2 separate regions of the Homo sapiens genome follow, and region 2 is linked to region 1. The links come from fine-mapping of genetic effects on gene expression. A gene starts in region 1. The other region holds a variant in brackets. All regions are shown on one strand. Distances are from middle to middle. Region 1 holds the start of GYPE (glycophorin E (MNS blood group)). Region 2 overlaps GYPB (glycophorin B (MNS blood group)).

Region 1 (4,463 bases):
CATTGAACTTCATCCTTCTTAACTACGTCATAGAAATGACTCGGGCAATTCAAAAAATAGCTTAAAGACATGTAGTATCAAGAAAATTGGATAAGTTTTTTATGTTTGATTAAATGCCTCAAAAGTACTTGTTTTATTTTATGCAAAGATTCAAAATTCTTAAAAGATGTGGATTTGTCTAATAATTTGCATGATATAGCTCATAGGTAGAATTTTATGATAATTATGAATGTGTACTTCAGTAAAAATATTTCTGAAAAATTTAAAGAAGATTAAGGAATGCCTGAAAGAGAAAAATGTAATCTGATGTATTTTTTTTGTTGTTGCATTTACGGGGCTCACATTTTTTCCTTCCATTGTGCAGATACGCCACTAGAGAGCACTGTACGGCACTGCTTCCTCACACCCTGTGTGAGGTGCTGAATCTGACCTCTGATTTCCTCATTGAGAACCCTCCAGGTTTTGACTTACTTTAATAGGGCCAGGTACTCTATAGGGCATTGTGCCAGATGCTGGAAACAGAACAACAGAGACAGGACCCACAAATACAAAGGAACAGATTGTTCACAACAACCTGAGACAGGTGTTAATAAACAGGCCTGTGTCAGCACTACAGGAGTTTAGAGAATTGCTAACGATGTGATTCTGCAGGAAAGGAAAGTGGGAGGTCATGGAAAAGAAAGCACTCTCAGACTCTGACCAGTCCAGGCTGAAGAAGGTATGAAAGCTGAATTTTAGGCTGAGTTTCCTTTTCATTTTCCCCTTCCTGCCTTAGCAATGGACCTCCATACTGGAGGGAACCTGAAGCTAGGATATGACATAGGTTACCCGCAGGATATATAAAAAATGATCAGCCTATACACCCAGGACTGCCCGTGAGAAGTTGCTTTCCTCTGCACTGCAATATTCATTTGTCATTTATTGATTTGAGAAATATTTATTGTCAAGTGTGCCCCAAGCACTCATTGGTAAATAAGATAGCCATAGTCAGGGTGTGTCCACTTAAAAACTGTAGTCCAGTGGAGACACAATGATTGCAACGTAGTGTAATAAGTCCTGTGATAAGGGAAGAAGATGGAACCACACAAGTATAGAGCAGGGGCACCTGACAAAGACAGGAAGTCAGGGAAGGCTTCGTGGAGGAAGTACTATTCAATGAAGACCCTAAGCAGAATTGGAGGCCACCTAAAAAGGAGTAGGTGTATTCCAGGTGAAGATAGCACAACCCAGGAAAAAAAGAATCCAATAGGATTTTATTTGTGTATATACAATTTTCAGATCTTGCTGTTTTCCACTTATCCATTTTATCCTGAGTCTCCATATCTTTATTTTTGAAAACATGATTTTAATAGTTGCTCTAATAGTCCATCGTAAGAATAGTGACATTTATTTACCCATTTTCAGAAATAGCATTTTTAAGACTCATGCTAATCGCTCTCCCTTTGTCAATATAAAATCATGTGAATTAATTCTTACTGCTTATATGAATATCAACAACATTTCCTTTACTTGGTTGACTCTTGAGCACAATTCCTGCAACCCAAACTGATATCCAGCCATAACAAACACTGAATTTATGGAAGGTATTAAATTATTATGTATTGTTTAATTTTAAGTTTTTAATAAAATTTGCTGCAGTTGTTTTACATGAATTGGCAGGGCCTTAAGAGGCACTCTGGATTCTTTTCCTGCTGCTCAGATTACCCCGTCTGTGTCATTCATTCTTCCGTCTCTCCCAAGTCTGCATCTCCACTCCCTCCATCCATTAGTCCCTCAATCTCAGGCTCCTCCCTCTCTGGGATGCTCTGCTGATACTTATCTCCATCTTTTATCCAGTAAATACTTTTTTTTCTCTGTGGTCCAGTTTCCTGAATCTGCAAACATTAGCTTCATAAATGATTTTTTTAAACCACACTTTGGGTAAATATGTAAGTATGATATATGTGGCAAATTGCTTACATAGCAAATTGATTTTCTGGGTCAGGCAGGAAAGACTTTCACAAAAATCTTACAGGAAGTAAGATGATTTAGATGGAGTATCCAGTCACCTTCTGTTGAACCATTTCAGACCTAATTTATATTTTTTGTTCTGTCTCCCTTTAAAATTGAGCTTCCTCACATTTCCATACCTTTCATTTTAACCTACTTTAATGATAAGGTTTTTGGTTTGTTGGGTTTTGTTTCTGACTGTTTTCATTTATTGTCTTGGTATTCATTTATGCTTACTTAGCAAGGTATATTTCAGACAGAAACAGCTCACTGGTTTCATAGCTGCACAGCACTAGCTCTTCAGTTCAAACTCTATTTTCACTGAAAGATTTGTTGCATCTCATGTCTCTTACATTGCTGTGTGACTCACCATGAGTTTGGGAGTCTTTCAGAACCTCAGAACACTCAAATGATTTAAATTTCTCAAATATGTTCATTTCACATATAGGAAGTCACTTTCATCTGGACCACCGGGTCTTGACATTAGAAATGAGAAGGTCTATGGCTCCACAACAGCTACCTCAGCCTGGCACGTGCCCTGGCCTCAGAGATTCACAGTCCAGTTCTTTGTCCAGTTGGGTGGCTCCTGTCTACCACCTTACCATGCCCACTTAACTGATGCAAAGTTAATATCACAAGTAGCCACCTGTTCCTTGCAGTGAAAATTGTACTTACCACTTTCATAGCCCCAAGATATCCATGTATCTTTATTAACAGGCGCTTAACAACTTGCATCATTTAAAATGCCTCCCCTGCCTATCAGCTGATGATGGCCACAGGAAGGTGGGCCTGGAAGATAACAGCTAGCAGGCTAAGGCCAGACACTGACACTTGCAGTTGTCTTTGGTAGTTTTTTTGCACTAACTTCAGGAGCCAGCTCGTGATCTCAGGATGTATGGAAAAATAATCTTTGTATTACTATTGTCAGGTAAGTGATTTTATTTCATCTTGGTTCTGTTATATTGGGTATGAGATCATAGAATAAAATGTAAACTACCCTATTTTAGTTCTATCTTATTTAAATGCATAAATGAGTAGTATTTCCTCTTCCAGTCTGGTGGATGGATTTTACTGGAACTCAGCTACCAATGTGGGGGAAATGGCACAAGGGAGCCCAGTATTTATGGCCGAATCCAGTTTTCTAGTATGAGAAGCTTACTTCAATTCTAAGTCTAGCTAGAATTAAACTAATTTTATCAAATGCTATGAGAAATAGCTCTCTGTGAATAAATGTATTGCTTTGTTTGAGTTATAAGGAGATTCATTTCCAAACTAAAGAGTTATTAACAAAGGTGTTATATGGCTTTTAGTTTTAAAAAGGTATAATTTCCTATTTCTGCCAAATGGTGAGAAGCCAAAAGCATGAACACTGAAACCGTGGGGAGTTGTTCGCTTCTCTGTGGGTCCATTACTAAAGTGTCACATAGGAAGAAACAAAAACAAAAACAACTCTTACTGGCTTAGATGTCATGTGAATTTTAGGAGAAATTTAAATCCATTAAAATAAATATCATAGGGTCATTATTAAATTGTATTCAATAATTTGAATTTAACTTAGTTTAAATTTAATTATTAATTTAGTGTATTAAATAAACATGATTTTGGCCTCTTTCTGAGAATATTATAGTTAAACATCCTCTCAAGTGCAGTGCTTATGTGTTAGCAATACTAGTGCCCAGCACACAGGGGGCAGGCAGTTGCTTGAAACATTCTGAGTCTATTAGACATTGCTGTAATCCAAGTGAGAGCAAGTATCAAGGATCTACTGAGCATACAGTAGCATACAGGGAAGAGAGGATCTACTGAGCATACTCTGTAGCATACAGGGAAGAGAGATCAGCATTTTCTAAGATACCCTAGGGGAGGATAAAATAGTGCAATAGTTAAGAGCACAGGCATGAGGAACACACAGAACTGGGTTCAAATCTAGTTTTACTTCTCAAGGCTGGGGAACATTAAGGCAAATTATGTGCCCACATTTTTATGTGTCCTTGTCTTTAAAATGCAGGCAATGTTGGCACTTGCCTTATAATAATTGCGTAAAGATTAAACAAAATGTTTAATGGAATACACTTACTGATGCCTGAAACAAAGTAAAATGTTAAGCTTACTATGCATTTTCTATGATTAGAATTAACTATCATGATTAATAAGTATTAATAATATATTATTAAAATAAGCAGTAGCTATCAGTAGTTACAGACTAGGGAACAAACCTACGTATGTGATTGGTGATTTCTGAAAAGTCAGAGAGAAAAGAAAATTACAGAAAGAAAACAGAAAACAAACATAGCTACTCTAATTTTTTAAGCAGAAAAGTATGAAAACATTTAGTTTGAAGAAAAAACAAATGAAAGGGATGTAGTGTAATATTTGTATATGTATTCATATATTTGAAGTGCTATTACACAGAAAAAAAAGATGTATTCTTTGTGTTGCTCCATGGGGCAAACCAAACTGGATGTAACTCAAAC
Region 2 (4,000 bases), 91 kb before region 1:
TGCTTTATAGGAGAAACGGGACAACTTGTCCATCGTTTCACTGTACCAGGTATGTTAATATTTGACAAAGAATAAAAGTCATTCCATTTTAAACTATCCATTGCTTGTTTCAAATGCCTAAGAAAATGTGTCTATCTTAAAACAGAAGAGCATATGTTGTTAACTTTATTCACACGAAATTGTAAAGACAAAGAAAATATTCTCTTTTTAAAATTAAAATAGGCATTTCTTATTTTTAAAAACATTTTGGGGGCCAGGGGCCGTGGCTCATGCCTATAATCCCTATAATTTTGGGAGGCCAAGCCTGGCTAATCACTTGAGCCCAGGAATTTGAGAACAGCCTGGGCAATATGGCAAAATCTATCTCTACAAAAAATACAAAAATTAGCTGGGATGGGGCATGCACCTGTAGTCTCAACTGCTTGGGAGGCTGGCTGAGGTGGGAGGATCGGATCCATTGCCTGAGCCTGGGAGTTTGAGGCTGCAGTGAGCTATGACTGTGCCACTGTACTCTAGCCTTGGTAAGACCCTGTCTCAAAAACAAATACATAAGTAAATAAAAATAAATAAAAACATTTGGAAATAGAAATACATAATTTGGTAATAGTTTTTCTCTTAAGTTAGATGTTTTACCTTTCTAACCAACCCTGAGTACTTGAAAGAAGCCTCATAAGAGCTTATAAAACAAGTGAAGTTCCCTCTGCCCTCATGTAAAAAGCAAGGCATTTAAAATCATCTAATTAACTGGTACTGTATTTCAAGGGTAAATCTCAGCCTTGATTCATTTTTGGCCCAATGCAACCACTTAGGGACCATCTTGACAACCTCTGCTGAAGGGACATCCCTTCCCCTCACTTGAGTATCACTGTGTGTGCTCATTTGCTATTCTGCATTCTAACCCTCCCTTCACACTTGGCCGTGTCCATGGCTCACAGGGTAAAAAGCACATCATAGAACTTCATCACTATCGCATACATTCAAGCTAAGTGGTCAAGAAGGCTGGGCAACACCAGCAAGAGGAAATGCTACTTTTACTTTTTGTGAATAATTTAAATATTAATTAGGCAAATAAATGAGCCATTTTACCTGTATGTCTAGCCTTCCATTCTATTTACTTCATCTGGAAGTACTACAAATATGCTATAAATATGGAAATATCTCTTACTTAATTGATTTCAATTGTTTCATTCCCAACATATAAATGACTTAACAAGCATTGTTAGTGACTATATTGGAGACTATGCATAAGAATACTGTGGAAGGAATAAAGCTTAGAATATAGATGACCTGCATTATAGTTATAATTCTACTTTTAACTAGTTGTCTGACCAAGGCTAAGTTAACCTTATTCAGCTTCTTTTCTTCATTTGTAAACTGTTTATACCAGTTTCTTTCCAAAATTATGATTCTATGATCTGTTCAATGCTCTTTTATATGTTAAGACATTGTTTTCTCTCATAACTTCCAAACTATGGGAGAATTTGTGGGTTTTTTTCCCCATATCTGAGGAGAACGTCCACTGAGTTCTTATCTACAGTTACACTAGTGAAGAACGCTGGGTCTGGAATCAGAAGCCTCAGGTCTTAGTTCTGTCATCAACTATTTTGCGACCTTGGACAAAAGACTTGATCACTCACAGTCCCAGTTTCCCACAAGGTTACTGTAAAGCACACAATTTAAAAAAAGACAAAATACACATAATAGTATGTTAACTGTACT[T/C]TGTATTAAAAGGCAAGGTGATGTTATGCTGATGTTATCTGTCTTATTTTTCTATTGCTATGTGGTCATTTATTTCAGACTTTCATAATTTTGCTGCTCTCTTTAGCTCCTGTAGTGATAATACTCATTATTTTGTGTGTGATGGCTGGTATTATTGGAACGATCCTCTTAATTTCTTACAGTATTCGCCGACTGATAAAGGTGAGAATTCAGTTTTTAATTTTGCTCTAAATACCAGTGTGAACAGCTCTAGGAGGGTTTATTCCTCTGAGTTCAGTTAAACTCAGAAGAGAAACAGAACTGCATAAAATTCCATCTTTTTCAACTGGACACATAGAAGTCACTGTGTTTCTCTAGCAGAATTTTTTTTTTGCATTTGCCCAATTAAAGGGAACCTCTAAATATAAGTCTGTCCCCCATTTTCCCAATGAAAGATCTCCCTAAGTTTTTGTCTAACTTGCTTTCACATATTTTGATGGATATTGAGGAAATATTAAGATTCTTCTTATAGTATTTAACCTATTAGTGTAAAAAATATTTAAAATAATATATTTACATATGTTTAAAACTTTGGAGGAGGCCAAGGCAGGAGGATTGCTTGAGCTCAGCAGTTTGAGACCAGCCTGAGCAAAAAGGTGAAACCTAGTCTATACAAAAAATATGAAAATTAGAAAGGCTTGGTGGTGCACATGTGTAGTATCAGCTATTCAGGGGGCTGAAGTGGGAGGATTGCTTGAGCCTCGGAAATCAAGGCTGCAGTGAGCTGTGATCATGCTACTGCACTCCAGCCTGGGCAACAGAGTGAGACCATGTCTCAATAAATATATAAATAAATAAATAAAAATAAAATAAAACTTTTGCCTTTCTTAATTCTCACATGTTCTGAAACAGATTTTACAAATTTCCACCCATGAATTCTTAACATCAGTGATTTTTTTTGAATCATTAAAGTTTTTTAAATTTTTTTTTGAGACAGAGTTTCCCTCTGTCACCCAGGCTCGAGTGCAAAGTGGCGCAATCTCTGCTCACTGCAGCCTCTGCCTCCCTGGTTCAAGTGATTCTCGTGCTTCAGCCTCCACAGTAATTGGGACTACAGGTGCGGGCTACCATGCCTGACTAATTTTTGTATTTTTTTAATAGCAGAGATGGGGTTTCGCTGTGTTGGCCAGGCTGGTTTCAAACTCCTGACCTCAAGTGATCCACCTGCCTTGGCCTCCAAAGTGCTGGGATTACAGGTGTGAGCCACTGCGCCCGGCCCTAATTAGGGTTTTTATAAAACCAAAAGAACTTGGCAACACCCCTAGGTACCCTTTAGAAGCCTCCAATTGGCTACAGCCTGTGAAGGATTGGCCTGTGACCAATCAGAGGCTGAAGTGGAGTCTTAGCTCATGGTCAAGCAGAGGCTGAAGTGGAAACTTCTTGTCTTTTTATCACAGGCATGAGGATGTGGCCTGCATGCTGCCTGATCTTGCCTAGAACCGGCTGCACCTGCTGTTCTCTTGTTTATGCAAACTGGCTGCACCTGCTATTCCTTTGCTTATGCCCCTACCCCTGGCTATCCTAATTCCCTGTTCTCCTGCCTCACTATTACTGTATTCTCTACTTCTAAATAAAAATAAAACAAAATACAAACCGTTTTCATGTATTATAGTCATGATTTGTTATTTCAAGCTATGTTTAAAATGTAAAGCCCATTACAGTAGGATAGATGAGAAGAAAGAAGGGTCTGAACAAAGCCAACAGCGGAGAACATGCAGAAGGGGAATGAAGACTTCAGCCTGGACTCTCATTAGGTGGTTGTCCAAGATAACATGAAGTCTCATGTGAAATATATTGGAAAAGAACAAGATTCAGTCAAGTACCCAAGGTGCCTGACTGCTGAAACGGCACTGTAATTTAAAAAGCAAAGACAAGTTTATCATACTGTGAGATCCTTGAGGGCAAGGACCAAATTCTATTCAAATCTTTGTCAAAAACCAGATTTTTGATAGGCTTACTTTAGTATCCATTGATCTTAATTATAGTTCACCTGCCAGGAGTTAAGGTCCCTCCTCAACAGTAAAGAGAATGACAGGCACAGGGGTAGGAGCACGTAGAGAAGGGCCTGACTTTCAAATGAACTCTGGAGAGCACTCATCACCTCCAGAACACAGCAGATCTTACTGAGATGGCTGGGTCAGAAATCTCTGAGGGACTCCAGGATGCCCACGCCTCAGAAAGGACAGGTTAAACCAAAGGACCTGGGGTCCCAATGTGCAGCACGTTTCCTCTTCTAGTACAC

Evidence for each region. PIP is the estimated chance that this variant, and not a neighbour inherited with it, causes the effect.
Region 2: its variant is the best candidate, but not a certain one, in a credible set for the expression of GYPE in whole blood (INTERVAL, PIP 0.63).

Annotation. Positions count from the first base shown.
Region 1 is chr4:143,903,925-143,908,387 of GRCh38, reverse strand. It overlaps GYPE (glycophorin E (MNS blood group)), which reads left to right and starts at 2,829. Exons shown (of 4, transcript NM_198682.3): 1 at 2,829-2,917. The coding sequence starts at 2,881. All of the region lies in intron 9 of LOC105377459 (a long non-coding RNA gene), which reads right to left.
Region 2 is chr4:143,995,460-143,999,459 of GRCh38, reverse strand. GYPB (glycophorin B (MNS blood group)) reads left to right here. Exons shown (of 5, transcript NM_002100.6): 3 at 11-49; 4 at 1,826-1,920; 5 at 3,156-3,356. The coding sequence ends at 3,161. Among named protein-coding and RNA genes, the nearest start is that of GYPB, 22 kb to the left of the region's middle. The variant T/C (reference allele first, on the strand shown) is at 1,720.